Linked DNA regions of Homo sapiens. The protein of the gene in region 1 interacts with the protein of each later gene in a pairwise test. Each region holds a gene or a part of one and is shown in the gene's direction. Other genes may lie near its edges.

The links.
Region 2: the proteins of BOLL (region 1) and PUM2 interact in binary tests that used the Homo sapiens proteins (3 or more experiments, as listed by UniProt).
Region 3: the proteins of BOLL (region 1) and AGRN interact in binary tests that used the Homo sapiens proteins (3 or more experiments, as listed by UniProt).
Region 4: the proteins of BOLL (region 1) and NPBWR2 interact in binary tests that used the Homo sapiens proteins (3 or more experiments, as listed by UniProt).

Annotation. Positions count from the first base shown.
Region 1 is NC_000002.12:197,782,294-197,789,496, reverse strand, and holds the start of BOLL (protein boule-like), read left to right. Parts: upstream 1-4,177; 5' UTR 4,178-4,441; exon of another isoform or gene 4,442-4,481; coding exon of another isoform or gene 4,482-4,496; exon of another isoform or gene 4,497-4,865; coding exon of another isoform or gene 4,866-4,868; intron 4,869-7,203. UniProt on the Homo sapiens protein: Probable RNA-binding protein, which may be required during spermatogenesis. May act by binding to the 3'-UTR of mRNAs and regulating their translation.
Region 2 is NC_000002.12:20,305,834-20,312,861, reverse strand, and holds part of PUM2 (pumilio homolog 2), read left to right. Parts: intron 1-438; coding exon 439-626; intron 627-1,198; coding exon 1,199-1,368; intron 1,369-4,277; coding exon 4,278-4,548; intron 4,549-4,790; coding exon 4,791-4,884; intron 4,885-7,028. UniProt on the Homo sapiens protein: Sequence-specific RNA-binding protein that acts as a post-transcriptional repressor by binding the 3'-UTR of mRNA targets.
Region 3 is NC_000001.11:1,051,108-1,056,632, forward strand, and holds the end of AGRN (agrin isoform 2 precursor), read left to right. Parts: intron 1-145; coding exon 146-262; intron 263-345; coding exon 346-538; intron 539-620; coding exon 621-708; intron 709-885; coding exon of another isoform or gene 886-909; intron 910-2,353; coding exon of another isoform or gene 2,354-2,386; intron 2,387-2,645; coding exon 2,646-2,870; intron 2,871-3,340; coding exon 3,341-3,444; intron 3,445-3,716; coding exon 3,717-3,874; 3' UTR 3,875-4,269; coding exon of another isoform or gene 4,270-4,292; 3' UTR 4,293-5,009; downstream 5,010-5,525. UniProt on the Homo sapiens protein: Isoform 1, isoform 4 and isoform 5: neuron-specific (z+) isoforms that contain C-terminal insertions of 8-19 AA are potent activators of AChR clustering.
Region 4 is NC_000020.11:64,104,563-64,111,798, reverse strand, and holds the start of NPBWR2 (neuropeptides B/W receptor type 2), read left to right. Parts: upstream 1-4,233; 5' UTR 4,234-4,435; intron 4,436-4,876; 5' UTR 4,877-4,967; coding exon 4,968-5,969; 3' UTR 5,970-7,236. UniProt on the Homo sapiens protein: Interacts specifically with a number of opioid ligands. Receptor for neuropeptides B and W, which may be involved in neuroendocrine system regulation, food intake and the organization of other signals.

The DNA of each region.
Region 1 (7,203 bases):
ATGTCCTTTGCAGGGACATGGATGCAGCTGGAAACCATCATTCTGAGCAAGCTATCGCAAGGACAGAAAACCAAACACCACATGTTCTCACTCATAGGTGGGAACTGAACAATGAGAACACTTGGACACAGGGTGGGAAACATCACACCCCAGTGCCTGTTGTTGGGTAGGGGGCTGGTAGGGGGGGGATAGCATTAGGAGAAATACCTAATGTAAATGATGAATTAATGGGTGCAGTAAACCAACATGGTACATGTATACCTATGTAACAAACCTGCACGTTGTGCACATGTACCCTAGAACTTAAGGTATAATTTAAAAAAAGGAACAAAGTTTTGAAAATGACATCCACCACTTACTAGCAATGTGACCACGAGAGTCACTTTTACCTCTCTAAGACTCAGGTTTCCAATGAGAGAGAGAAAAAGAGAGACTAAGAAAAAGAGAGAACTAAGACTTAAAAAGAATGTGGCTAGCCCAGCATTAGGTACATGATGCAGGCTCAATATCTTTCCCTCAATTTTTCTGCCCAGACCAGCATTCCAGCCTTAACAATGCCCTTACCCAGCCCTGGACACTGTGCTCTATGATGCTATCCTCTGTTCTCCCACAGACCGTTGATCATTGTTAATATATCACTCAGCCTGTTATGCCTGTATTTTATTTTCTTATAAGCATATTTATATTATACTGTTTGGAGTAATTAGTTTTTTCTATCCTTCTAGATTTAAAATGCTTTGAGAACAGAGGTTTGACCTTGTTCTTCAAGCTTGTCCAACTGGTGGCCCATGGGCCGCATTTGAATGCGGCCCAACACAAATTCGTAAACTTTCTTAAAACATTATGAGATTTTGTGATTTATTTTTTTAGCTCATAAGCTATCGTTAGTGTTTATGTATTTTATGTGTGGCCCAAGACAATTATTCTTCCAATGTAGCCCAGGGAAGCCAAAAGATTGGACACCCCTGTTCTTCATCTTCATATCTCCCACATTATATTCCATTATGTACTGCACAGAATAGGAACTCTGTTAAGTGTCTACTAAATTGGGGTGCATTGCATAATTTTATGTGGTTTATCCAAGTTTTAAAGCTGAACTTTCCTTTTGGTGTAAGAATTAATAGTAAGAGGCAGAACAGAGAACTGCCACACTGAAAATAAAGTATATCCCTCTAGTACCCAACACCAGCCTTGAAATACAGTTAGCGTTCCCTAAATTACGTAAATTTTTGTCAGATTAAACACCTACTGCGCTGAATACATTTTTTAAGAGAATGTAGTTCTTGAAAATAAGTGTTTTTAGTCAAAATGTTTTGGGCAAGAGAGGATAGTAACATCTACCCAAATCCAGCAACAGTCCTAGGAAAAAAAAATGCCCAAAGAAGATTAGTTCTACTGGTATTGAACAGTAAGATTATTATGCTTTAGAATATGAGTTTTCATCTAAATAGGTTTGTATTCTCGATTTCCACAGAGACTGAAACCTGGTAAAATGAGCTTAAATTGCATGCAGAAATGTATAATGACTTTAGGGATTCTTCGGGTAAGATAAACAAAAATTGTTTCCCATTTTATTTTGGGTAAAATAATATGAAGAGCTAATCTTTGAATAAATCAAAAATTAATATATTCACTCTGTTTTTAATTCTATATCTTGAAGGCAAAGTAACCCAAAGTCAAACTTTTATAGTAGTGTGTACAATAGTTATTACTGGTGTAAATTTTAACAGTTGTTACTGCTGATTCTTTAAAAATATGTGGCAAAATGGTTATGATCAAGAACTGTGGGTTGGGGGGGAGACGAGGGTTAAACCTCCTACAGCTTTAGATCTTGACCAAATTACTTATCCTTCAAATCTCTGCTTCATCACGTACTATGACGATAATTGGAGCATCTATCTGAAAGGTTGCTGTGAGCATGAAAAGATTAAATGATACTGATCATAAAGCATTGTGCCTGAAACAAAGTGAGTACTTGATAAATGGCAGCTATAATAATGATAATCATTACTATAAGTTTATCCAGTTGTAATCATTTTAGCTACCTACTAGAAATACGTATTATTTACAAAGCAGTCTTCTTTCAGCCAGGCATGGTGGCGTGGGCCTGCCTGTGGTCCCAGCTACTCAGAAGGCTGAGGTGGGAGGATCGCTTGAGCCCAGGAGGTCGAGAATTCAGTGAGCGTGATCGCACCACTGCACTCCAGCCTGGGCGACAGAGTGAGCCTTCGTGTCTAAATAATTAGTCAACTGGACGGGCACGGTGGCTCAAGCCTGTAATCCCAACAATTTGAGCGGCCAAGACAGGCAGCTCACTTGAAGTCAGAAGTTCAAGCCTGGCCAACATGGTGAAACCCCGTCTCTACTAAAAATACAAAAATTAGCCGTGGTAGCGGGCGCCTGTAATCCCAGCTACTCGGGAGGCTGAGACAAGGAGAATCGCTTGAATCCGGAAGGCGGAGGTTGCAGTGAGCCGAGATCGCGCCACTGCACTCCAGCCCGGGCGACAGTGCGAGACTCCGTCTCAAAAATAAAAATAATTAGTAAATTAATTCATTAATTTAAGAAAAAAAGCGCAATCTTCTTCCAAAGGCGATCCCAAGGCTGTTGGAGGCTGAAACCGCTAAGTCGCCCCCTACCGCGCGGGTGGCTTCGTCCCGGACCCCTCCAGAGGCTGTGCCACTGCTGGAGGTGCTCAGCGGGGCCGGGACCCGCTTGGGGCGCCGTCCGGGGCGAGCACCGGAGCCCGACTGGGCTGAATGGCAGGTCCTGACCAAGCCACCCGCGCGGCCCCGCCCGCCTGGCGGGATGAGTGACGGCGGCAACAGGTGCAGAGCGGCGTCCGCGGCTTCTCGGGAGCCCCCGAGTTTTGCGAGTCAGGCCCCGAGAGTCAGAGTTTGACTCTAGAACCTTCTTCGCTTTACACCAGTCTTCGGAAGTCGCCCGTCAACCGGCTTCTTCTACCTCAGTAAAGCCTTAAGGTCACCTCAACCTCTCGAAACCCACCAGTCCCAGAGGCCGACTCTTCTCAAGTGGAGGAGAGGGGAAGGCGTGCATGGAGCTTTGCCTGACCGCTCGCTCTCTCCTCCCCAGCCGTCTGAGAGAAGGCGAGAGGGGTCCCAGAACCGAGCCCTCGCTCCGCACGCCCCACGCCCGCCCCGCTGTGCCGTGCGCTCTGCCCCTGAGACGCCCCGGCTCGGAGTCCCAGGGCCACAGCCGAAACTCGCCCTCCCGCGCCCCTCTCCGGCTTGCAGCGCCCGCCCGCACCGCCACCTGCCACCCGAGGCGACGCAGTCCGCTTCTCCCCACCCGCCAGGTGGCAGGTTCAGGGCCGGGGTCCGAGCCTGCTTCCCTGCAGCTGCCACAGCCACCCTCGCCGCCAGGGGGCGAGAGTCCCAGGCAGGACAAGCAGCGCTGCTGCCTTGGCGTGAAGGTGGTTTCAAACTTTAGGCTTCTTTTCCCTACCCCGCGTCTCTGAAGAGCAGAGAGGAAGATGGAAACCGAGTCCGGGCCGGTGAGTACGGCGATCAGGGCCCCAGGGCGCGGGATAGCGGGGAGAAGGAGCAGCGTGGAGCCTGTCCCTGAGGGCTTGGAGGGGCGAGGTGAAGGCCCCAAACGCTCGCTATCTGGTTGGGAAGAAACGTGGCCAGGTGCCCCATCGACCGCTGCCAGGAGCCACCCGCCCGCAGACCTCGTCTGGCTGTGTCATGGGGGTCAGAAAGGCGCCGCCACGGGGCCTGGACTGGGTGTAGACGGGCCAGGGGACCTCAGGCGTGGATGTTTCGGGAGGCGGCGGGCTGCCAGGCACCCAGCGAAGTCCGAGCAGGTAAACCGCTTTCCCGCCGAAATTGGGCTAGGCAGCGTCTTTGACGCTCCCTGCGGCCGAACTCGACCCAGCCGCCCAAGGCGAGGAGTTGCCAGGGCGGTCGACGCCTCCACTCCCCGACTGGTCAGCGAGGACCGGAAGGTCTGAGAGACCTGGCAGGGCCCGCCTGTGGCCCAGGCGGGACCCGGACACTCTAGCCCTGGCTGTGCACCCAAGCCAGTCAGGGTGGACTTGGGGAAGTGAAGGAGGACTGCCCGCACAGGCCCGAGGCGCAGCGGCAACGTGCCATCCCGCCCCGCCCCGTCCCGCCGCCAGCAGCCAATCAGGGAGCGCCGCGCGAGGGTGGGGACCAGCTGCGCACGAGGCCAGCGGCGGGGTCGCTGCCGTTGAGGCTTCCCGCCACTGCTGCTGGCGGATTTGTGGGGCAAAATTTCTCGCTGGCTAGCCTTCTTTTCCCTCCCGCACTTTGGTGGGGAGGGGGTGGATCCTCGTTTCGGTGCCCAAGTTCACGATGACCCGAGAGAACTCGAGGAAGTTGTCGCCGCGGCCATTTCCCCCAGTGCCGCAACTTGCTGGCCTTGGAGGGGGAGGAGCGCCGAGGCAGTGACTGCGACGGTTAGCCCGCCCGTTCCTGCTGTCTTCGTTTGCAAAATAGATGCTAGATCTCGAGGTTGATTCTCAAGGGGAGGGGCCAGTGAGGGCACATTGCTTTGGAGGAGTAGTTTAATAAACTCTCTAGTGCTGGAAGTTTTAGCAAACGGAGGAGCCTTCAAACCCGGCAACAGTCCCCATCTAGGTGTTTCCGTAACACATGCGGAATTATTGCTAGTGGAATTTCAGGCTTTCTTTGTTGTTTAACTCAATGCATCGCTAATTGTTTATAATGAACTTAGATGTTGCCTCCACCTGAGCCTTGCTATTGCTAACATTAAAATATTTTGTAGGCCTGGCGCGATGGCTCCCGCCTGTAATCCCAGCACTTTGGGAGGCCAAGGTGGGCGGATCACGAGGTCAGGAGATCGAGACCATCCTGGCCAAAATGGTGAAAACCCATCTCTACTAATACAAAAAAATTAGCTGGGCGTGGTGGTGCGCACCTGTAGTCTCAGCTACTCAGGAGGCTGAGGCAGGAGAATCTCTTGAACCAGGGAGGCGGAGGTTGCAGTGAGCCGAAATCACGCCACTGCACTCCAGCCTGGCGACAGAGCAAGACTGTCTCAAATATATATATATATATATATATATATATATATATATATATATATATATATATATATATGTATTAGACTGCTGTTATACTGTATTCTTTAGCCTTCAGCCTATTTGGCATATCATGAGCAGGTCTCTCCTGAAGAAATGATTCACTTTTAGTCATTCAACAGATATTTATTGAGCACCTGCTGTGTACTGTCAGTACTTTAGATGCTGCCATGAAAAAAGCAAAACTTCTGCCCTGGTGCATTACATAATAGTGGAGACAGATAATAAACATACTAAGTAAACTATATCGTATGTTAGAAAATGATGAGGGAGAAAACTTAAGCAGAGCGAGCCCACAATAGAGCCTTAGAGAGTGGAGGAGAATGAAGTGAATTGAGTGTGAAAGGTTGTTTTTCTTTTCTCAGGGAGTATCCTTTAGTTTCTCGAGATTGGAAATAAAGCACTGTTTACTTCCGTTCATTTCATCCTTCTCTCAATGAAATATAATGGGGTTTGTCTTTTACTTAAACTTGCGAACATATTAGTACATCTTATTTTCAATAAGAGAATTTCATGAAGAATGATTTTTTAAATTTAGCAAATAGGTAATTTTGACACTGTAAACAAATGGGCAGAAAGACAAGATTACATCTACTAGAGCTGTTATATTATCTCTAGCAATACAAAATCCATAGTTGAAAAATACTAAGCATTCCAGAATTACCCATTCTGAGCATTATATCCTACTGAGCGAAGTGACTGAAGTCACAAATAACCTCCAAGTGCCCAGAGAGAAAGCTGTTAAGATTAGATTCCCAGTTTCTTTCATTGGAAACTACAACATAGTAATTATTAAATGTGGTGGCTTTTCTGTGTTTTAAAAGAAGTATTTACATATTCCCTTATTAGGAGTACATACTTCCTTAAGGCTGGATGGGGAAGAGAGCCCATAAGGTCCAGCCTATAGCCCAATTGCCACTCCTGCCCTAGTCATTTCTCTGTACATCTTGCAAAGATTAATTTAGGGATTGTGATTGTATTGGCCAGAGAAGAAAGAGCAGAACAAATTTGAAAAAGAACAACTTTATTACCTGAGCTGGAGATTCATTTTCATGAGTTTGTTTCTCAGAGAATTGGAATTATGAACTTCAAGCTTTTGTTATTTTCTTTTTCTTTCTTTTTGAGATGGGGTCTTTCTTTGTTGCCCAGGCTGGTCTCGAACTCCTGATCTCAAGCAATCCTCCTGCCTCAGCCTCCCAAGCAGCTGGGATTACAGGCACAAGCCACAACACCCAGTTTACTTCAAGTTTTTTGAAGCACACATTTAGGATATTATGGGGTTTGTCTTTAGGATATTATGGGGTTTGTCTCAGAAGTGTGTTTAGTGTTTCCAGATGGAAAATAATTCACCAGTTCTTGAATTGGTTTCTCTTCAATGTGATTCTCAAGTCTTGGGTTTTTTTTCAGTTATACCTTAAAAGTCTATTATCTTACCATTCTGCAAAGGCTTATACATTTATATATATTTATTAAAATTTAAATTATGTCCTCTAACTTAGAATTGTGAACATGTGGATATGTACTGAGCTAATTCTTTGGAATAAACATTTATGAGCTACAAGTATATAATTTTTTAACAAAATCAGTCCAATCTTCAAATTGACAAGTGCATTTAAAATTTTGACTTTCAGGCTGAAAATGGTGAATGTGAATGTTAGAGTTTATTAACTTGTCGATGACCATTAGTTAAAGACCACCAGGAACACATGCGTCATTTAGTAAAGTTGGGTCTGTTAATTGTTCAAACAAGGGAAAACATAAACCATGGGGCCTCTCAATCAGAAGGTGTTAGAACTTACAGGATATAGGCTTCTGTTGAGCAATTTCTAGAGAGGGTTTAAGGAAGTAGGGCTTTACTCTGGAATGTATAGCGTCAGGAAATGGTAGTAATTCTATGATTGGATGTGTTAACTTTTATCTAAAAGGAAAGAAAAATGGATCGAGGCTAAAACTATAGCTGATAAAGAAGGAGCAGTCACTCATATCAGCCAGAATGGAGGGTTGTTTGGTTATTCTTGTGGTTTGGGCAATGCCTTTGTTTTTGTCAGCATTCAAACATGATTATGGAGTGGTCTTGTTTTTAATCTTGATCCATCAGAGTCACAGGGTGACTTTGT
Region 2 (7,028 bases), about 180 Mb from region 1:
GGTACCAGTACCATGCTGTCTTGGTTACTGTAGCCTTGTAGTATAGTTTGAAATCAAGTAGCGTGATGTCTCCAACTTTGTTCTTTTTGCTTAGGATTGTCTTGGCTATGCGGACTCTTTTTTGGTTCCATATGAAATTTAAAGTAATTTTATCTAATTCTGTGAAGAAAGTCAGTGGTAGCTTGATGGGGATAGCATTGAATCTGTAAATTACCTTGGGTAGTATGGCCATTTTCATGATATTGATTATTCCTATCTATGAGCATGGAATGTTCTTCCATTTGTTTGTGTCCTATGAAGAGCTTTATATAAAGATTATAGTAATAACATTCAAAATAAAACAATGTGCTGATTTTTCTTACTTCAGTATATTAATTTAACTACATTTTGTTTAACTTAAAAGTATAAGTATATAATTGTGTTTTTTCTTCCAAACAGACCATTCAATGTCCCAGCCTATTATGGTACAGAGAAGATCTGGACAGGGTTTTCATGGAAACAGTGAAGTAAATGCAATACTGTCTCCGCGATCAGAAAGTGGAGGCCTTGGTGTGAGCATGGTAGAATATGTATTAAGTTCTTCTCCTGCTGATAAATTGGATTCTCGATTTAGGAAGGGAAATTTTGTAAGTATTTTGAATAAAGAAATATTTAATATTTGCTTGAGAGTTATTTGGTTACGTTACTTTTATTTTTAATTCAATTTGTTTTTCTGTGCCCTTCCTATAGCTAAGAGAAATTTTGTAACTATTATTGCTATTCTTCTGCTTAGCCACTTGAAAAACGTGAAATGATAGAACCATTGGAAATATGTATAATCTGAACCATGTTACAAAAGTCAAATCATACTAATTTTTAAACATAATCTGTAAAATTAAAATTGCTTATTCCTGGTAGTGCTTGATCTGAAAGTAACTAAACAAAATCGTCTACGCATTAAAGAAAATTTTAATCTAGTTTGTGGTGTTAACTGCTTTTCCAGCACCGCTATAGTTAAGGTTGCCTTAGCCCTTCTGTTATAAATCACTAGTTTGTACGCAATTTTTTGGCCTTTGATAAATTAATTGACTACGAAATTAAATAAGATTCAATGCTTTTATTGTTTACATGCACTGTAGTGTAGTGTTAGGTCACCTTATGGTGCCTTTTTTTTGTGTTCTATTAAATATTCAGAATCAAACAGATTCTTTTTCCTCAGGGCACTAGAGATGCTGAAACAGATGGACCTGAGAAAGGAGATCAAAAAGGCAAGGCTTCTCCATTTGAGGAGGACCAAAACAGAGATCTTAAACAAGGAGATGATGATGATTCTAAAATAAATGGCAGAGGTTTGCCAAATGGAATGGATGCCGATTGCAAAGATTTTAAGTAAGATTTTAACTTTCTCAAGAAGAAAAGCGTATCTTTTTAGGGATTATTACTATTAGTTGATGTGACTGATTTAGACATTTTCATCATTTAGGTTTATTTCCTTTGAACTTTGTGTTAATCTGGACAAATTTTAGTTTTTTACTATAAAGAAAATTTGTGATTATGAACCATTTTAAAAAAATAATCTTCAAACCAGCCTCTGAAACAGTGCATTCTGTTGAAGGAGTAATGTTAGAAGCTGTGCTTACTTTTCTGGTAATATAATAGTCTAAATTTGAACTTTTTCCTCTCTGTTAAATTTTAGTGAACTGTAGGTTTACTCTGATTTTTTTTTTTCCCCTCTTGGGAGTGCTTTTGAGCACCTTTCAGTGGAGTTTTCTTCCTTCTGAGTATATATGCCCTGCCTCCCATTTAACTTTTAAGAGGAGACAAAATTAGCTTAGGAGCAGTAATCTTTCTTAAAATATATGAGTTTGTGCTAATACTTAAGATTATTCCTGCAAATAGCAAATAGGGAACATATTAGAGACTTCTAAAAGTTAGCTTTAAGCTCATAATTTTTTACATTGTAGCCTTTTGTTGTCTTTTTATGGCAGTTAAATGAGTACTTTAGCCTTTGGTCTTAGATTAGACAGTATATATTTATCTATATATTAGGGAGTTGTTTCTTTGTATTGATTTTCTGTAGTATTTCAATAATGAGGTGCTTTGGAGCTTGTATCTGAAAATGAGTTGTTTCTTTGAGGTCTTATGACCATGGAATCTTACATAAAAAAGTATTAGGTATATGGTGGGTGGTATACTTTTACATTTATTGCCTTCAAAAGCAAAGTAACAATGCTTCTTAAAAACAGTGCCATTTCTATCTGTTCTGAGTGCAAAAAAGCATCCAAAACCAGTAAACCTCTTTTAACAAGAAATACATTTAATGCTATTCAGATTTAGAAATTTATTTCGAGTTTGTTCTTCACTATTACCTAATCTAAGTTTTAGTAAAGGAAATGCATGTAAAATTAAGTAGATGATAAACCCTTCAGAGTATACATTTATAATTGAAGTGTTAATACACCATTAACTATAGCAAGAAAATAGCACCACTGATAGCATTACTTTTTTTCCTAATGTCCTCTATTTTTGCTATATACGAGTTACTTTGTGTGAGAGGTTATACGTCTCCCCTGAAATATTAATGTGGACTTTACATTTATTAGCATTCTAATTTTATTCCATTAAGTTTTTAGGTATCTTTTAAATTACTAATTATTTTAGATACAGTATTAGTTACTACTTGACAGTATTAAAATGTGTTAACACAATCAACAGCTGTGGTCATACGGTCACTATGCCAGCACATCATTAATTTCTACATTAACTAATATGTCATCAATATATACATTATTGGAGTAGAACAGAAATGAGTAAAAGAACTATTGGACACTTATTTTTTAAAGAAAAATTGGCTGATTTTAAAGAAAATGCTTTTAGTTTTATCTTTTCATTCCATATGTTCCAAATGAAAAAAGAGCCTTTGGGATGTTCACGTACAAAATTAGGTGTGGCTTAAAGGGAAAGGAGTTTGAAATCTTCTGATTTTGCAAGGACAAAATGGTTGATGTTTAAGTGAGTGTAAGTTTGCTTACATATCTACAGAGAACAATTCTTGTAATCAAGAAATTGCTTTGTAAACTACTCTATATGTTAGCAAATTTATTCCAATTCAGACCACCTGAAGTTGGGAAGAGTTAGCTGTAGCAACTGGCATTAAAAGCCAGGTAGAACAGTTACTGCCATTTACTTAATGTACTCAAGTTTGAATATCCTGTGAATGCATAGTTACTCTGAACAATAAACTCTTTCTTACAAAGGAAAGGATCCTATATAAAACATTTATGTATAAGATAAGCTATAAATGAGGATTGATAATGGGCTAGAAATGTAAGTTTAGACCATGAAGGTGTTAATAAAAAGAGAAGCCAGTGCTTAAAATTTAGTCCAGTGTTAATGAATTCCTTGTGAAAATTAAGGAGGCTGTATAGTAGTAAGGTCCTTTTTTTTTTTTTTAATGTAGAAAGATCCTTTTCTTGCTGTGTATACTTAAGTTTTGATAAATGTCATACATTTCGATTTCTTTCTGATGGTTTCAGCTGAACTATTTGGTATAATAAGCATGGTCTTCGGAGGGCTTTCATAGTGGGCTTTCATAAATAGTTGCTTTTGTTCTTATTAGTTGGAATCAAAAGGTCATCTCTTAAGTCTCCTCAATAAGAAGACTGCAGCTTGAAAGATGACATGACTTGCTCAAAATCATATTTAAAAGACAAAGTCAGAAGTCAGCCTTTTGACTTATCATGTATAGTACTCTTTTCCTGTTGCATCCCACATTTTGGCCCCTTAAATAATGAAGACCATTATGATCTCTTATGGCCAGATTTTTTTCTTAAGTATTATTAAGCAGGATGTTATGGCAAAATTATGTGTTGGCAGGGCAGGACAGCAGTATGGTAAGTGGGTTTTGGTTTTGAGCTTTTTCATATTTGCCACTTAATAACCTGCTGTTAATACACTGTTCTTTGTGACTGTGACTTGAGACAGAGATTTCAGGTAGTATAAGCCTAAGTTGTGATACTGGCCAGTTTTTCTAATGTGTAAAATTGCATTATATCTTTATGTTATTCAGATTGAAGGGAGTAATCATTAATAATATTTTTAAAATCCTCAAATCATGCCAGCTGTTAAGAGGAAAGTTATATTAAATAGAAAAAAATGTGATAAGGTGGCATAGTGACCCAGAATGCCTTATTCATTGTGTTTTATGACCATTTGTTTTTCATGATTTTTCTATTTTCCCATTTCGCTATTTGACTTGTTACTTTTATTCATAATGCTTTTCTATTTTCTTTATGTAGTCGTACTCCTGGAAGTCGTCAAGCCTCTCCAACTGAAGTAGTTGAGCGCTTGGGCCCCAATACTAATCCCTCAGAAGGACTGGGGCCTCTTCCTAATCCTACAGCTAATAAACCACTTGTTGAAGAATTTTCAAATCCTGAAACTCAGAATCTGGATGCCATGGAACAAGTTGGTCTGGAATCCTTACAGTTTGACTATCCTGGTAATCAGGTACCAATGGACTCTTCAGGAGCTACTGTAGGCCTTTTTGACTACAATTCCCAGCAGCAGGTAAAAGCATGTTCTTTCTTTAAGAAGGTCCTCTTAACTGTATACTGGTTTAGCCTGAAGTGCTATGTGGCATTGAAAAGAATGGTAGGGGTTTTTGAGTACTAAATGTTTTATTGATTAAAGTGTCCTGTATTTGAGAAAGTCCTCCCAAAGAAAAAATGTTTAAAATGTTTTATTCAGATTTCTAATTAGAAATGAAAGATTTTGACACTAATCTTTGTGTTAAATATTTTCCCTAATAGCTCTTTCAGAGGACTAATGCACTAACAGTTCAACAGTTAACTGCAGCTCAACAGCAGCAATATGCATTAGCAGCAGCTCAGCAGCCACATATAGGTGAGTCTTCATACGTTCTCATTTTGACCAAAGTCTTGTTAAAATGTCTAGGATGTTTCACTTTTCGTTTACTGATTGGTGAGGTTTTGTTACTTTTTGAAACATCTGAGATCAACAAGTAATAGGTTGTATGACAAAGGTGTTTATTAACTAGGGAATTGTTTCTGATTATTATTTGCATCACTGGTTTAATTAAATAAAAATCTGTAATTCGATAAAAGTTATTATCACATAAGTTTTTCTCCAATGTGAAGTTGAGAAAGTCAGACACTTGGAAATTCAAATTTACTTGTGTCCATTATCAAGTCAGTATGTTCATTTACATTTTTTTGTAAAATATTTTTTTCCATGAAGTTATTTGGTCTTTGACTTTTAATCTGCTAGAATTCAAGCTTGGTACATGATGTTGTCTGTACTAGGTCTCCCCACTACCTCCCACAATAATAATATGGGAATAACTTCCCTATACCCTTTACCCAGTTCCCCCTAATGGCTACACTTAAATTATTACAGTACAGTATCAAAAACAGTAATATGATATTGATGCAGTATGTATGTATAGTTTTATTTTATTTTATCAGGTGTAGATTTGTGTAAACATTTTTATGCCTGTCTGATTTTGTCTAAGTTTGTATGAAGACTGTCAACATCAGAGTCTATGGAAGGGGGTTGTCTTTCCTTAATGTCATATTCTTCTGTGTTAGTGCAATAAGGCTTCCTAAGCCCTAATTTTTATTTTTCAGTTTTTTTGTTTGTTTATTTTGGAGAGAGAGTCTCACTCTCACCCAGGCTGGAGTACAGTGGGGCAATCTCGGCTCACTTCAGCCTCCGCCTTCTGGGTTCAAGAGATTCTCCTGCCTCAGCCTTCTGAGTAGCTGGGATCACAGGCGTCTGCCACCACATCTGGCTAATTTTTGTATTTTTAGTAGAGACGGGGGTTTTACCATGTTGGCCAGGCTGGTCTTGAACTCCGGATCTCAGGTGATCAGCCCCCCCTCGGCCTCCCAAAGTGCTGGGATTGCAGGTGTGAGCCACCGCGTCTGGCCTATTTTTTGTTTTCATCAAAAATGTCAGGCTGCACAGTGGCGCCATCCTGAAATCCCAGCACTTTGGGAGGCTGAGGCAGGTGGATCACCTGAGGTCAGGAGTTTGAGACCATCCTGGCCAACATGGTGAAACCCCGTCTCTACAAAATTACAAAAATTAGCTGGGCTTAGCAGTGGGGGTCTGTAATCCCGTCTACTTGGGTGTCTGAGGCAGAGAATCGCTTGAACCTGGGAGACGGAGGCTGCAGTGAAGCAAGATTGCACCACTGCACTCCAGCCTGGGTGACAGAGAGAGACTCCGCTCAAGAAAAAAAAAAAAAAAAAAAAGTCCACATTTATAGGTGAGTGCCAGTCGCAGCATGTACTCTGGCCCCGTTTCTTTCCTCTTTTTGCCTCTCTTTCCTTTTTTCCCCACCCGCTTTATCCCTTGTTTGTCCTCTTATGTTAGAAATGTACTGCTACCTGTCTATTCATGGACAGCACAACGGTTTTTATTTCTCGAGGCTTTATATTATTAGGCAGGCTAATACATCTATTACTCTTCTTTTTTGGGGTTTTAAGTTTTTGGTTCTTGCTTATTTGCTTTTTTGTATGAACTTCAAAATTAGCTTATCTACTTCCAGAAGATAGGATTAAATGTTGTAATTTACTTAGGGAAATTTGACATCTTTATGCCATCAAGCATCAGGTTTTTTTTGTTGTTATTGTTTTTGTTGTTGTTTCTTTGACAAGGAGGTCTTGTTGTTTGACCCAGGCTGGAGTGCAGTGGTGCAGTCTTGGCTCACTGCAACTGCTGCCTCCCAGGCTCAAGTGATCCTCTCGCCGCAGCCTCCCGAGTAGCTGGGACCACAGGTGCACGCCACCACACCTGGCAAATTTTTTGTAGAGACAGGGTTTCACCATGTTGCCCAGGCTGGTCCTGAGCTCAAGTGATCCACCCACCTCGGCCTTCCAAAGTGCTGGGATTACAGGCGTGAGCCACCGTGCCCTGCTGACATCAAGTATTCTTGTCCAGGGTGTGATGTGTCTTTATTTTTGTTCAAGTTTACTGTAGTGTCATTTGAGTGCTTTAAAATTTTTCTCATAGGGGTTTGCATA
Region 3 (5,525 bases), on another chromosome or scaffold:
CACTAAGGACCCTGCCATTTCTGTGTGATTAACGCTGCCCCCTAGATAGGCAATGGGCGGGTGGGGCGGGTGCGTGCAGGTGCCTGGGCCCTGGGTCTGCACCGTGGGTGGGCTCTGCACAGCCACTTACCTGGCGTCCCCGCAGGTTCCGCACACCGTCCTCAACCTGAAGGAGCCGCTCTACGTAGGGGGCGCTCCCGACTTCAGCAAGCTGGCCCGTGCTGCTGCCGTGTCCTCTGGCTTCGACGGTGCCATCCAGCTGGTATGTGGGGGCGGGGCGTCCCAGCAGGGCCTCCGGGGCGGGCGGGGTGGCAGGCGGGACAAGGCCCTCACCCTGCCCTGCAGGTCTCCCTCGGAGGCCGCCAGCTGCTGACCCCGGAGCACGTGCTGCGGCAGGTGGACGTCACGTCCTTTGCAGGTCACCCCTGCACCCGGGCCTCAGGCCACCCCTGCCTCAATGGGGCCTCCTGCGTCCCGAGGGAGGCTGCCTATGTGTGCCTGTGTCCCGGGGGATTCTCAGGACCGCACTGCGAGAAGGGTGAGCCTGGCACAGGGCAGGGGGCGGAGGCCGGATGGGCCCGGAGCCCACGAGGCCCCACCCTCACCTGCCTATCTCACAGGGCTGGTGGAGAAGTCAGCGGGGGACGTGGATACCTTGGCCTTTGACGGGCGGACCTTTGTCGAGTACCTCAACGCTGTGACCGAGAGGTAACGTGCCATCCTCTGCTGGCTGTCGGTTCCATCTGTGCCCTCGGGGCGGGACACCGGACCCCCACACCAGGAGGGCCCAGGAGGGGACGGCCCGGTGCTGCCACCTCTGTCCTCCCGCCTCTCTCTCACCTCCCGGTCCTCCCGCCTCTCACTGTCTGTCTCTTTGTTTCCAAGCGAACTGGCCAATGAGATCCCCGTGTGAGTAGAGCTCGGCGCCCCCCGCTCCCTCTCACTCCCACTCCTCCATCCTTCCTGGTGGGGAGCAGAGTCCGGAGCCCCCGGGGAACTTTCCATCCCTTGTGGCGGAGGATGGGGGTCCGGCGCTATTTGGCTGCAAGAGGCCGTTTCCTGCCTCAGAAGTGCAGTCGCCCCTCCCAGGGCACAGGCCGAGGGTCGCCCCACAGCCAACCCCCACCACTGAGGCTGTACACACCTGTGCGCATATGCATGCATGTCTGTGTCCGTGTGCACTTCCGCGTGTGTGAACATGCAGCTGTGTCTGTGCGTGTCTATGTATATGGAGTGGATGTGCAAGTGTGTGTGAATATCCAGCTGTGTGTGTGCATGGGTCCATGTATATGTGTGTGTGTATATGTGGGGGGGACATGTAGATATGCGTGTGTGACTATGCGGCCGTGTGTGTGCATGGCTCCATGTATGTGTGTGTATATGAGGGAGACATGCAGGTATGTGTCCGTGTGTGTGTGTGTGCATATGGGTCCATGTATGTGTGTGTATATGAGGGAGACACGCAGGTGTGTGTCTGAGTGTGTGCGCACATGGGTCCATGTATGTGTGTGTATAGGTGAGGGAGACATGCATGTGTGTGTCCGTGTGTGTGCATGGGTCCATGTGTGTATAGTGTGTACACATGGGTCCATGTATGTGTGTGTATATGAGGGAGACACGCAGGTGTGTGTCCGAGTGTGTGTGCATGGGTCCATGTGTGTATAGTGTGTGCACATGGGTCCATGTATGTGTGTGTATATGAGGGAGACACGCAGGTGTGTGTCCGAGTGTGTGTCCATGGGTCCATGTATGTGTGTGTATATGTGGGGGAGACAGGTGTGTGTCCGAGTGTGTGCATGGGTCCGTGTATATGCGTGTATATATGGGGGGATATGTAGATGTGTGTGTGTATGAACAGGTGTAAGTGGGGAGCACTCAGGTGTGTCTGTGTGTGTTCGTGTACACGTGTGTATGTGTGTGAACATGGAGGGGTGTGTGTGTCCGTGTGTAGGTTTGCGTGCATGCACACATGCATGTGTGTACTGGGGCATCCAAGCCCCTGGTCTCCACTCCATACCACCCTACGCCTACCTCCTTGATCTCTGCGCCCAGCCTTGGCTGTGCTCCCCTGCTGTCTGCACGTGGGTGTCTGCACGTGGGTGTCTGCATGTGGGTGTCTGTGCCCTCAAGTGTCTCGTGTCTGCACGTGGGTGTCTGCACCCTCACGTGTCTCGTGTCCGCACAAGCATGTGTAGGTGTCCCTGCTGGGCTCTTTGGTGGGCGGCCAGTGATCCTCGAGGTCACGCATGTCTTCTGTGGGTGCCTGCTCCTTGCACCCCACAGTGTTGAGATGGGTTTGCATTGGCCCCGCCTGTCCCCTGCTCACCCGCCTCCCTCTCTTCCTGCTTCTAAGCCCCGAAACTCTGGATTCCGGGGCCCTTCACAGGTGAGCACGTGGCAGCAGTGCCTGCAGACCCCTGGCTGGCCCATCTGTCCTCCCGCCCGTCTCTCTGATCTCTCTCTGCCAGGCTGCCCCTGTCTCCATCCCTCTTCTCCCTCCCACTGTCGGTGTCTGCCCACCAGCCACCCCTGGGTCCCGTCACAGCCCTTGTGGCCTCCGCAGCTGGGGCCCTTGTCCTCCCGCCTCCCCCACCCTGTCCTGTTGCCACCTTCCTAGAGGCCCTGACCTGCCCTCTGCCCTCCAGCGAGAAGGCACTGCAGAGCAACCACTTTGAACTGAGCCTGCGCACTGAGGCCACGCAGGGGCTGGTGCTCTGGAGTGGCAAGGCCACGGAGCGGGCAGACTATGTGGCACTGGCCATTGTGGACGGGCACCTGCAACTGAGCTACAACCTGGGCTCCCAGCCCGTGGTGCTGCGTTCCACCGTGCCCGTCAACACCAACCGCTGGTTGCGGGTCGTGGCACATAGGTGAGTAGGGAACCCAGCGTGCCGAGAATAGTGGCGAGGGCTGCCCAGACTTGCCCAGCTGGGCTGTGTCCAGTCACTTGTGACCAGGGGTCAGGGAGGACACGCCTTGCTGCCTGAGCCGAGGTCACTGCCAGTGGGAGGAGGAAGGGCCAAGAAGATGCAGGAGAAGCAATGATCAGTTTCCACGTCTGAAAGGCATCCCGGCCCTGCCCGGAGCCTGCCGGGGGTCGCTCCAGTCTGAGCCTGGCCGTCGCCTCCAGCAAAGCTTGAGCTGCAGGAATGTCCCCGGCCTTGGCTCCCAGTGCCCTCCTTGGGGTCAAGGCCACCTCATCCTTGCCCCCAGGGGTGATACCTCGGGGGTTCTCCAGGCTGAGGCACCTGCAGGGCATAGGAAGGATGCAGGGCTTATGGTCTAGAGGAGGCAGAGGGAACTCTGGGCCCTGATGGTCTCCCCCTCCCTGCACACCCAGGGAGCAGAGGGAAGGTTCCCTGCAGGTGGGCAATGAGGCCCCTGTGACCGGCTCCTCCCCGCTGGGCGCCACGCAGCTGGACACTGATGGAGCCCTGTGGCTTGGTGAGTGTTTTGGGGAGACTAGAGAGGGATGCCCAAGGGTCTCATGATATCCGAGGGACAGACTCCACCCCCCAGCGCCCACCCTTGAGTCAGGGTGCATGTGAGCCGGCGGGCTGGGCTCTCTTCTCCCGCTGTAGCCCCTGCAGTTCCCAGTGCTGTGGGGCCGGGAGGCGGGTGCCCAGGTGTGGGCCCCCTGCTGGTCACCTGCTCGTTGGGGTGCCCATCAGCATCACTGAGTCACAGCCGGGTGACTCCCACTGTCTGTGCTGCAGGGGGCCTGCCGGAGCTGCCCGTGGGCCCAGCACTGCCCAAGGCCTACGGCACAGGCTTTGTGGGCTGCTTGCGGGACGTGGTGGTGGGCCGGCACCCGCTGCACCTGCTGGAGGACGCCGTCACCAAGCCAGAGCTGCGGCCCTGCCCCACCCCATGAGCTGGCACCAGAGCCCCGCGCCCGCTGTAATTATTTTCTATTTTTGTAAACTTGTTGCTTTTTGATATGATTTTCTTGCCTGAGTGTTGGCCGGAGGGACTGCTGGCCCGGCCTCCCTTCCGTCCAGGCAGCCGTGCTGCAGACAGACCTAGTGCCGAGGGATGGACAGGCGAGGTGGCAGCGTGGAGGGCTCGGCGTGGATGGCAGCCTCAGGACACACACCCCTGCCTCAAGGTGCTGAGCCCCCGCCTTGCACTGCGCCTGCCCCACGGTGTCCCCGCCGGGAAGCAGCCCCGGCTCCTGAATCACCCTCGCTCCGTCAGGCGGGACTCGTGTCCCAGAGAGGAAGGGGCTGCTGAGGTCTGATGGGGCCCTTCCTCCGGGTGACCCCACAGGGCCTTTCCAAGCCCCCATTTGAGCTGCTCCTTCCTGTGTGTGCTCTGGGCCCTGCCTCGGCCTCCTGCGCCAATACTGTGACTTCCAAACAATGTTACTGCTGGGCACAGCTCTGCGTTGCTCCCGTGCTGCCTGCGCCAGCCCCAGGCTGCTGAGGAGCAGAGGCCAGACCAGGGCCGATCTGGGTGTCCTGACCCTCAGCTGGCCCTGCCCAGCCACCCTGGACGTGACCGTATCCCTCTGCCACACCCCAGGCCCTGCGAGGGGCTATCGAGAGGAGCTCACTGTGGGATGGGGTTGACCTCTGCCGCCTGCCTGGGTATCTGGGCCTGGCCATGGCTGTGTTCTTCATGTGTTGATTTTATTTGACCCCTGGAGTGGTGGGTCTCATCTTTCCCATCTCGCCTGAGAGCGGCTGAGGGCTGCCTCACTGCAAATCCTCCCCACAGCGTCAGTGAAAGTCGTCCTTGTCTCAGAATGACCAGGGGCCAGCCAGTGTCTGACCAAGGTCAAGGGGCAGGTGCAGAGGTGGCAGGGATGGCTCCGAAGCCAGAAATGCCTTAAACTGCAACGTCCCGTCCCTTCCCCACCCCCATCCCATCCCCACCCCCAGCCCCAGCCCAGTCCTCCTAGGAGCAGGACCCGATGAAGCGGGCGGCGGTGGGGCTGGGTGCCGTGTTACTAACTCTAGTATGTTTCTGTGTCAATCGCTGTGAAATAAAGTCTGAAAACTTTAAAAGCATTGCTTTTGTCCATCCTCACCAGCGCGCTGGCCCGTTGGCTTCTTGCTCCGCTTTGTGGTGGGAGCACGGACTTGGAGCTCCCTTGGGTGGCCCTGGATGGAGCCAGGCCCTGCACAGGGATCCTTGTGGCTGATGAGGCCCTGAGTGGGGAGCACACACTGCTGAGCACTGTGGGAGGCGGGGCCGTGGAGGCAGGAGGCTCTCTGGCGTGCACGTGTGGGTGCGTGTACGTGTGGGGGTGTGTGTGTGTGGGTGCGGGTACGTGTGGGTGCATGTGCCTGCTCTCTGGCGTGCACGTGTGGGTGCGGGTACGTGTGGGTGCGGGTACGTGTGGGTGCATGTGCGTGTGGGTGCGTGTGCCTGCTCTCTGGCGTGCACGTGTGGGTACGTGTGGGTGTGGGTGCGTGTGCCTGCTCTCCGGCGTGCATGTATGGGTGCATGTACGTGTGTGTGGGTGCGTGTGCCTGCTCTCCGGCGTGTATGTGTGGGTGCGTGTGCGTGTGGGTGCGTGT
Region 4 (7,236 bases), on another chromosome or scaffold:
AGGCAGCGGGTGCCCCGAGGTATGGTGGGGAATCCTGAATTTAAATGAGAAATGGCCCCTTCCCAGTTTTATAAATAAAGTGTGTTTTCTCCCAGCTTCCCTGGAGAATTCACCTCCCACTCTGAGGGAAACTGGCCCTGAATTACTTATCTCTTTCGAGAGAGCTAAGCTGCCCAATTACCTGCTTAGAGAACACCAGGCCTGGAACTCTCGCTGGTCTTTTTTTTTTCCTTGTGACAGGGCCCCACTCCGTCACCCAGGCTGGAGTGCAGTGGCACGATCTCGGCTCACTGCAGTCTTGACCTCCTGGGCTCAAGCGATTCTCCCACCTCAGCCTTTCAAGCAGCTGGGACTATAGGCATGCACCACCATACCCAGCTAATGTTTGTTTTTCTGTTTTTTTTGAGACAGAGTCTCGCTCTGTCCCCCAGGCTGCAGTGCAGTGGCATGATCTCGGCTCAATGCAACCTCCGCCTCCCAGGTCCAAGAAATTTTCCTGCCTCAGCCTCCCGAGTAGCTGGGATTACAGGCACCCACCATGACGCCCGGCTAATTTTTGTATTTTTAGTACAGACGGGGTTTCGCCATGTTGGCCAGGCTGGTCTTGAACTCCTGACCTCAGGTGATCTGCCCACGTCGGCCTCCCAAAGTCCTGGGATTACAGGCGTGAGCCACCGCACCCGGCCTTTTGTATTTTTTTTGTAGAGATGAGGTTTCACCATGTTGCCTTGACTGGTCTCGAACTCCTGGGCTCAAGCAATCTGCCCACCTTGGTCTCCCAAAGTGCTGGGACTACAGGTATGAGCCACCGCCCCCGGCCCTCTCACTGGTCTTAATGGCCTAGGCCTCTTGGGAGGACTTAACCTGCAGGGCCACAGCTACAGTTGAGGCTCATCTTGGAGAGCTGATGGAGGAGAGAGAGCAGGGCAGACAGGCCTGGACTCTGGCCACAGGGCAGAATCCACCCCTCCTACCAGGGCCTGCCTGGCTGGAGATGAGATGGTCAACAAGCACACTGGAGTCTGTATGAATCTCTGGGTCTGTATGCCTGCTACACATATGCATGCCCGTGTGAAGATCCAAGTCGCAGCACGGACTGAGGGACAGGTGTCCCTGCACACAGGGGGACAGGTGGAGGGCAGCTGCCACACCTATGTGAAGCGGCAACAAGCGTGAAGCCAGCACAGCTATGTTGTGTGTTGCTCAGGCTGTCCCAGGGTCCTGGCGCTTCTCCCTGGCCCCTGCCCTAGGGGTCTCCTTCAGGTCCCTGCAAGACCCCCACACGCAGCCCCACAAAATGCTCAGATGCACACTGACTGGCACCCATCACTCCCTCACCCCACACCCCAGACAGAGGATGTGCCATGTCAGTGGCCTTGCTGTCAGGCCCCCACCACCGTTCTGCCCAACAGAGCTGACCACGGCTCCCTCCCTCCCTGGCCTCTCCTCTCTTCACCCAAAGGGCCTCACAGGTTCATTTGAAAAGGCCAATTTATTTCTGAAAATGGAAACCATTTCCACAGAACGATGCTCTCACAAGCTCACAGCTGGCTGGAACAATGCCCAGCCCACGAACAGAGCAAAGGGCCTTTCTGAGCCCTGAGTGCTGGGGGTACAGACGGGGGAGCACCCCCGGCTCAGGCCCTGGTGTTGCAGCGGGCATCGGTGAGGTGCTTCTGGGAGGAGGAAAAGGCCCCTGGGGCTGCTGCTTTTGTGGCCAGGAGGACCTGACACCTCCAGCCGGCCTCCCCGGGGTCCTGAGCTCAGCACCTGGCAGTCTCCCCCATCCCCACTGCCCTCAGGGTCCCCATCCCTTCCATCATGCGCACCCCACCTCCAATGTGACCGGCGGGCGGTGGTGCCAGACCAGCCTTCAGGACAGGCTCAGGAGAGCAGAGCTAGAGTCTGGGAGGGGCTCCGATTCCCAGACTCACCAGATACCGGTGGAGGGAAGAGGACCCAGACTCGTGGTTGGCTTCAGAGGAAGCCAGACACACAGTGGGATCTTTGCATGGGAAGATTCTGTGCTCTGAGGGATGCCTCTGACACTGGGCTCCCCACTACTGAGGCTTAAGGGAAGACCCTCCTGGAACACCCTGCTCTGAAGAAGGTGTGGGTGGCAGTCGGTATCCTGCAGGGCAAAGACCAGCAGGGGTGCCCAGAGCTCAGGCCACACGGGGGTCACTGGGCAGGCTGCCAGCCAGCCCTGGGGGGCAGAGGAAGGCACCGGCACTAGCCTGGGCCCCTCCCAAAATGCATGGAAGGGAGAGGCCCCCAGCAATGCCCCCAGGGAGGCCCAGAGTCAGGCAGTGTGGCCAGCCCCACCCCAGGACAGCAGCTCGGTGACAGCAGGCCCCCAGGGAGGCCCAGAATCAGGCCAGCGTGGCCAGCCCCACCCCAGGACAGCAGCTCGGTGACAGCAGGCCTGGGACATTCTCCCAGTGCCCGGTGCTGAGGCCATGGTCGGCCGCTCCCCAGCCAAGACCAGTGACCGCCTGGCCCAGCCCACACCCTGGTCAATGCCTGGGCCACCACATGCCAGGCCTGGCCTCTCTGTGTCACGCCTCTGGTTTCCAGGAGCTGTGAACTGACCCCTCCCGACCCCACGAACACCCCAAATCACAAAATTCAGCCCCAATGCACCCTCTCCTCACGGCTGCTAATCACCATCCCCTGACCTTGTGGGCGTCAAGCTCCACTTATGTGACAAACTGTGGCTACAAGCCCCACGCTCCCTCGAGACACACCCACAGATCCCCCCCACCGCCATCCCCAAACTGGCTGAAGAGGAGTGTGAGATATCTCAGCAGGGTTCCCTGACCCCGGACTCAACATCCACATGGCACAGCCCATAGAAGGGTAGCTCGGGGCCCACCCACAGTGTACCCTCAGGCTGGCGACATCAGGGTACTCAGGGCGACTGCCCAGGCTCCTGTCCTAACCAATAGACTTGACAGAGCAACTCTCAGGAAAGAAGGCCGACCATGAGTGTGCGGTGACATCCTTGCAACCCCACAGGCAGCGGGCACAGTCTCGATGGGCAGACACATCTCCCCAGACTGAAAACACACAGTGACCAGGCACGGTGGGTCATGGCTATAACCTGAGCACTTTGGGAGGCTGAGGTAGAGGCTGAAGCTCAGGAGATCGAGACCAGCCTGGGCAACATGGTGAAACCCCGTCTCTACAAAAAAAAACACAAAAATTAGCCAGGCATGGTGGCACATGCCTGTAGTCCCAGCTACTTGAGAGGCTGAGGTGGGAGGATCACCTGAGCCCAGGGAGGTCAGGGCTGCAGTGAGCCATGATAGTGCCACTGCACCCCAGCCTGGGTGACAGGGCAAGACCCTGTCTCAAAAAAGAAGAAAGGAAAGAAAACACAGACCCTCTGACCCAACACGTCTCCGCTGAGGAGCGGCTCTGAGACTGGCGACTGCTCGTGTCAGCTGTGGCGTTGCCTGCAAAGCAGGTCCAGATGCGGCCGAGCTGCACACACACGGGTTGGATAAGCCAGGGTGCGTCCAGCAAGGAAGAAAAGCAGGGAGAAGGGAAGGACTTAAAGACCAACCCAGAGCAGAGTGTGATGCTCACCACCTCTGCAGGACGGCGGGAGAGTTACGTGTCAGCGTGAGAACGTCTTCTCTGCAGCCTTTCACAGCTTGCCTAGGCTGAGTTCCTCTTTTAGCAAAAGACAAAAAAAGAAGGTGGGTTGCCTATGGCCAACAAGTTCTGCTTCCACATGAGGGCATACAGACCCCCCAGATGCCCACACTCAGCCAAGGACATGTAGACCCACTCAGATACAACGCAGAGCTCACCCACAGAGACCCCCATACAGGCAGACACAGGCCCACACACGTACATGTCCTAACTGGCACACACACACAGGAACACACCATGTACACACACAGGGTGGGGCAGGAGACCCACCAAGACACCCATGTTCACAGATAAGGGTGCCCAGGCCCACAGTGACTCCCGGACAGAGGCACAGATGCCTTCAGTGCCCTCTGCCCGAAGACCTGGGCACACCCAGAGGCCCCTGCATGGAGTCCCTTCCTGACACACAGGCGCACACGTGCCTCAGCCGCCCACTGAGGAGTCTGCCTGGGTAAGTGAATGCTGAGGAGACCCTGGGACAGCCGACTGCAGGCGCTACTGCAGCTCAGGGGAAGGTGGGGCCTGCCTTCCGGGCTCCACGTCAGCAAGGGGGATCCGCCTCCCTCCCTCACCAGCATCAGCACTGACACCAGGCTGGGAACCTCGCAGCCGGGGCTGAGGCAGCCAGCAGGGCAGGTCTTGAAACTCCTGAAACCTCAGCTGGAGGTCTGTCAGTGAGGACCACACCTCGCCCTCCATCCCTGCGACTGCCTGTACTGGCCAAAACCAGGAACACACCAAGGCTACCAACTTCTGGACTCGAAGCACTGGACAGGTCAGTGGAGAGAAGAGTAGCTGGACCAGCAGGGTCTGCAGCATCTCTCGGGAGGGTGTGAGGGAGGGTGCAGACTCCAAGACCCCTGAGGGAAGGACCTTCAGATTCAAGGGAGCCAGAGATGAGCTTGGGAGGTGTGTTTCCAAAGGGACCGCTTGATTCTACGCAGCCCGTGCATCTGCGGGTTGCTGGGGCAGGGACGGATCCACATCTCTTCCCAGGAGGGTGGCCAGCAGCTGCTCTCTGCGGGAGGAGGGAACTGATCTGCTGAAGTCTCACCAGGAAGAGGCGGGAGGAGGCCCCCACACACCCCACCAGGCTCCCTCTGGCCCCATGTCCTTGACCTGGCAAAGTGGCCGCAGTCTCTGCCAGAGAACCTGGAGTGGCTGTGCCCTAACAGACGGCCGGATCTCAAAGTCTCTGGTTGTTTTTCTTTCCTAGAATCCAGCCCAAGGAGGCCCCCAACCAGATACCCAACTCCAAGGCACCTCCCACCTGCCCAGGGCGCAAATCGTCAACGGTCCCAGCTACAATGCAGGCCGCTGGGCACCCAGAGCCCCTTGACAGCAGGGGCTCCTTCTCCCTCCCCACGATGGGTGCCAACGTCTCTCAGGACAATGGCACTGGCCACAATGCCACCTTCTCCGAGCCACTGCCGTTCCTCTATGTGCTCCTGCCCGCCGTGTACTCCGGGATCTGTGCTGTGGGGCTGACTGGCAACACGGCCGTCATCCTTGTAATCCTAAGGGCGCCCAAGATGAAGACGGTGACCAACGTGTTCATCCTGAACCTGGCCGTCGCCGACGGGCTCTTCACGCTGGTACTGCCCGTCAACATCGCGGAGCACCTGCTGCAGTACTGGCCCTTCGGGGAGCTGCTCTGCAAGCTGGTGCTGGCCGTCGACCACTACAACATCTTCTCCAGCATCTACTTCCTAGCCGTGATGAGCGTGGACCGATACCTGGTGGTGCTGGCCACCGTGAGGTCCCGCCACATGCCCTGGCGCACCTACCGGGGGGCGAAGGTCGCCAGCCTGTGTGTCTGGCTGGGCGTCACGGTCCTGGTTCTGCCCTTCTTCTCTTTCGCTGGCGTCTACAGCAACGAGCTGCAGGTCCCAAGCTGTGGGCTGAGCTTCCCGTGGCCCGAGCAGGTCTGGTTCAAGGCCAGCCGTGTCTACACGTTGGTCCTGGGCTTCGTGCTGCCCGTGTGCACCATCTGTGTGCTCTACACAGACCTCCTGCGCAGGCTGCGGGCCGTGCGGCTCCGCTCTGGAGCCAAGGCTCTAGGCAAGGCCAGGCGGAAGGTGACCGTCCTGGTCCTCGTCGTGCTGGCCGTGTGCCTCCTCTGCTGGACGCCCTTCCACCTGGCCTCTGTCGTGGCCCTGACCACGGACCTGCCCCAGACCCCACTGGTCATCAGTATGTCCTACGTCATCACCAGCCTCAGCTACGCCAACTCGTGCCTGAACCCCTTCCTCTACGCCTTTCTAGATGACAACTTCCGGAAGAACTTCCGCAGCATATTGCGGTGCTGAAGGGCCTGGGCACCATCACCCCCATCATCATGCCCATCATCACCCCCCATCATCATCACGCCCATCATCATCATGCCCACACCCCCATCAGGCCCACCCCCCCCCACCCCCACCACCACCCCCACCATCACCCCCACCACCACCCCCATCATCACGCCCATCATCATGCCCACCCCCATCACATCCACCATCACGCCCACCCCCATCACCCCCACCCCCACCATCACGCCCACCATCACCCCCACCCCCACCCCCACCCCCATCATCACGCCCACCCCCCCCACCACCCCCACCATCACCCCCATCATCACGCCCACCCCCACCCAGTTCCGGCTGTCTCTTTCAGGGGACGCCCGGCCTGTTCACATCCCAGTGCTGTCCTCTCCACGCAAGGAGACACAGACCCTCACACGCTGGCCACCAGACCTACAGACAGCCGTGGGCATATACCTCCCATGTCTCTGCTTCCTGGACAGCCCCTGGGTGGACAGCAGCAGGGATCCAGGTCCTGGCAGAGGCCCCCACACAGCAAGCATCCCGGGCCCACTTACCCACGAGAGACAGACAGATGGACAAGCCCCTTGGAAGGCTCTGGGACTCAGGATCCCTAATGACAGTGGTCGGGAGGGGAGGGAACCTGAACTGTGATCTTGACCTGGGCCACGTTACATAGTCTCTCCCCAAGATGGGGCCGGGGGGTGGTAAGTGCGGGCACCTCAGGCAGCAGCGATGCTGTGTTGCTGCAAAGGCGGACACCTGCACCGCATGAGACCCAGAAATCCACTCTCGTGGCCTGAAGCCCAAGTGGAGTTCCAGCAGGAGGCCCAGCCCCGCCGTGCCCATGTGCCATGGCCTGTGCTGCTGTGTTCCCCCTGCTGTGGCCGACGGTCCTTGCCATGGCCTGTACCCGCCCTGCTGTGTCCGACAGTCCTCTCCATGGCCTGTGCTCCCCTGTGCCCCCCTGCTGTGTCCGACGGTCCTCTCCATGGCCTGTGCTCCCCTGTACCCCCCTGCTGTGGCCGACAGTCCTCACCATGGCCTGTGCTCCCCTGTGCCCCCCTGCTGTGGCCGACAGTCCTCACCATGGCCTGTGCTCCCCTATACTCCCCTGCTGTGGCCGACGGTCCTCTCCATGGCCTGTGCTCCCCTGTACCCCCCTGCTGTGTCTGACGGTCCTCTCCATGGCCTGTGCTCCCCTATACTCCCCTGCTGTGGCCGACGGTCCTCTCCATGGCCTGTGCTCCCCTGCTGTGGCCGACAGTCCTCA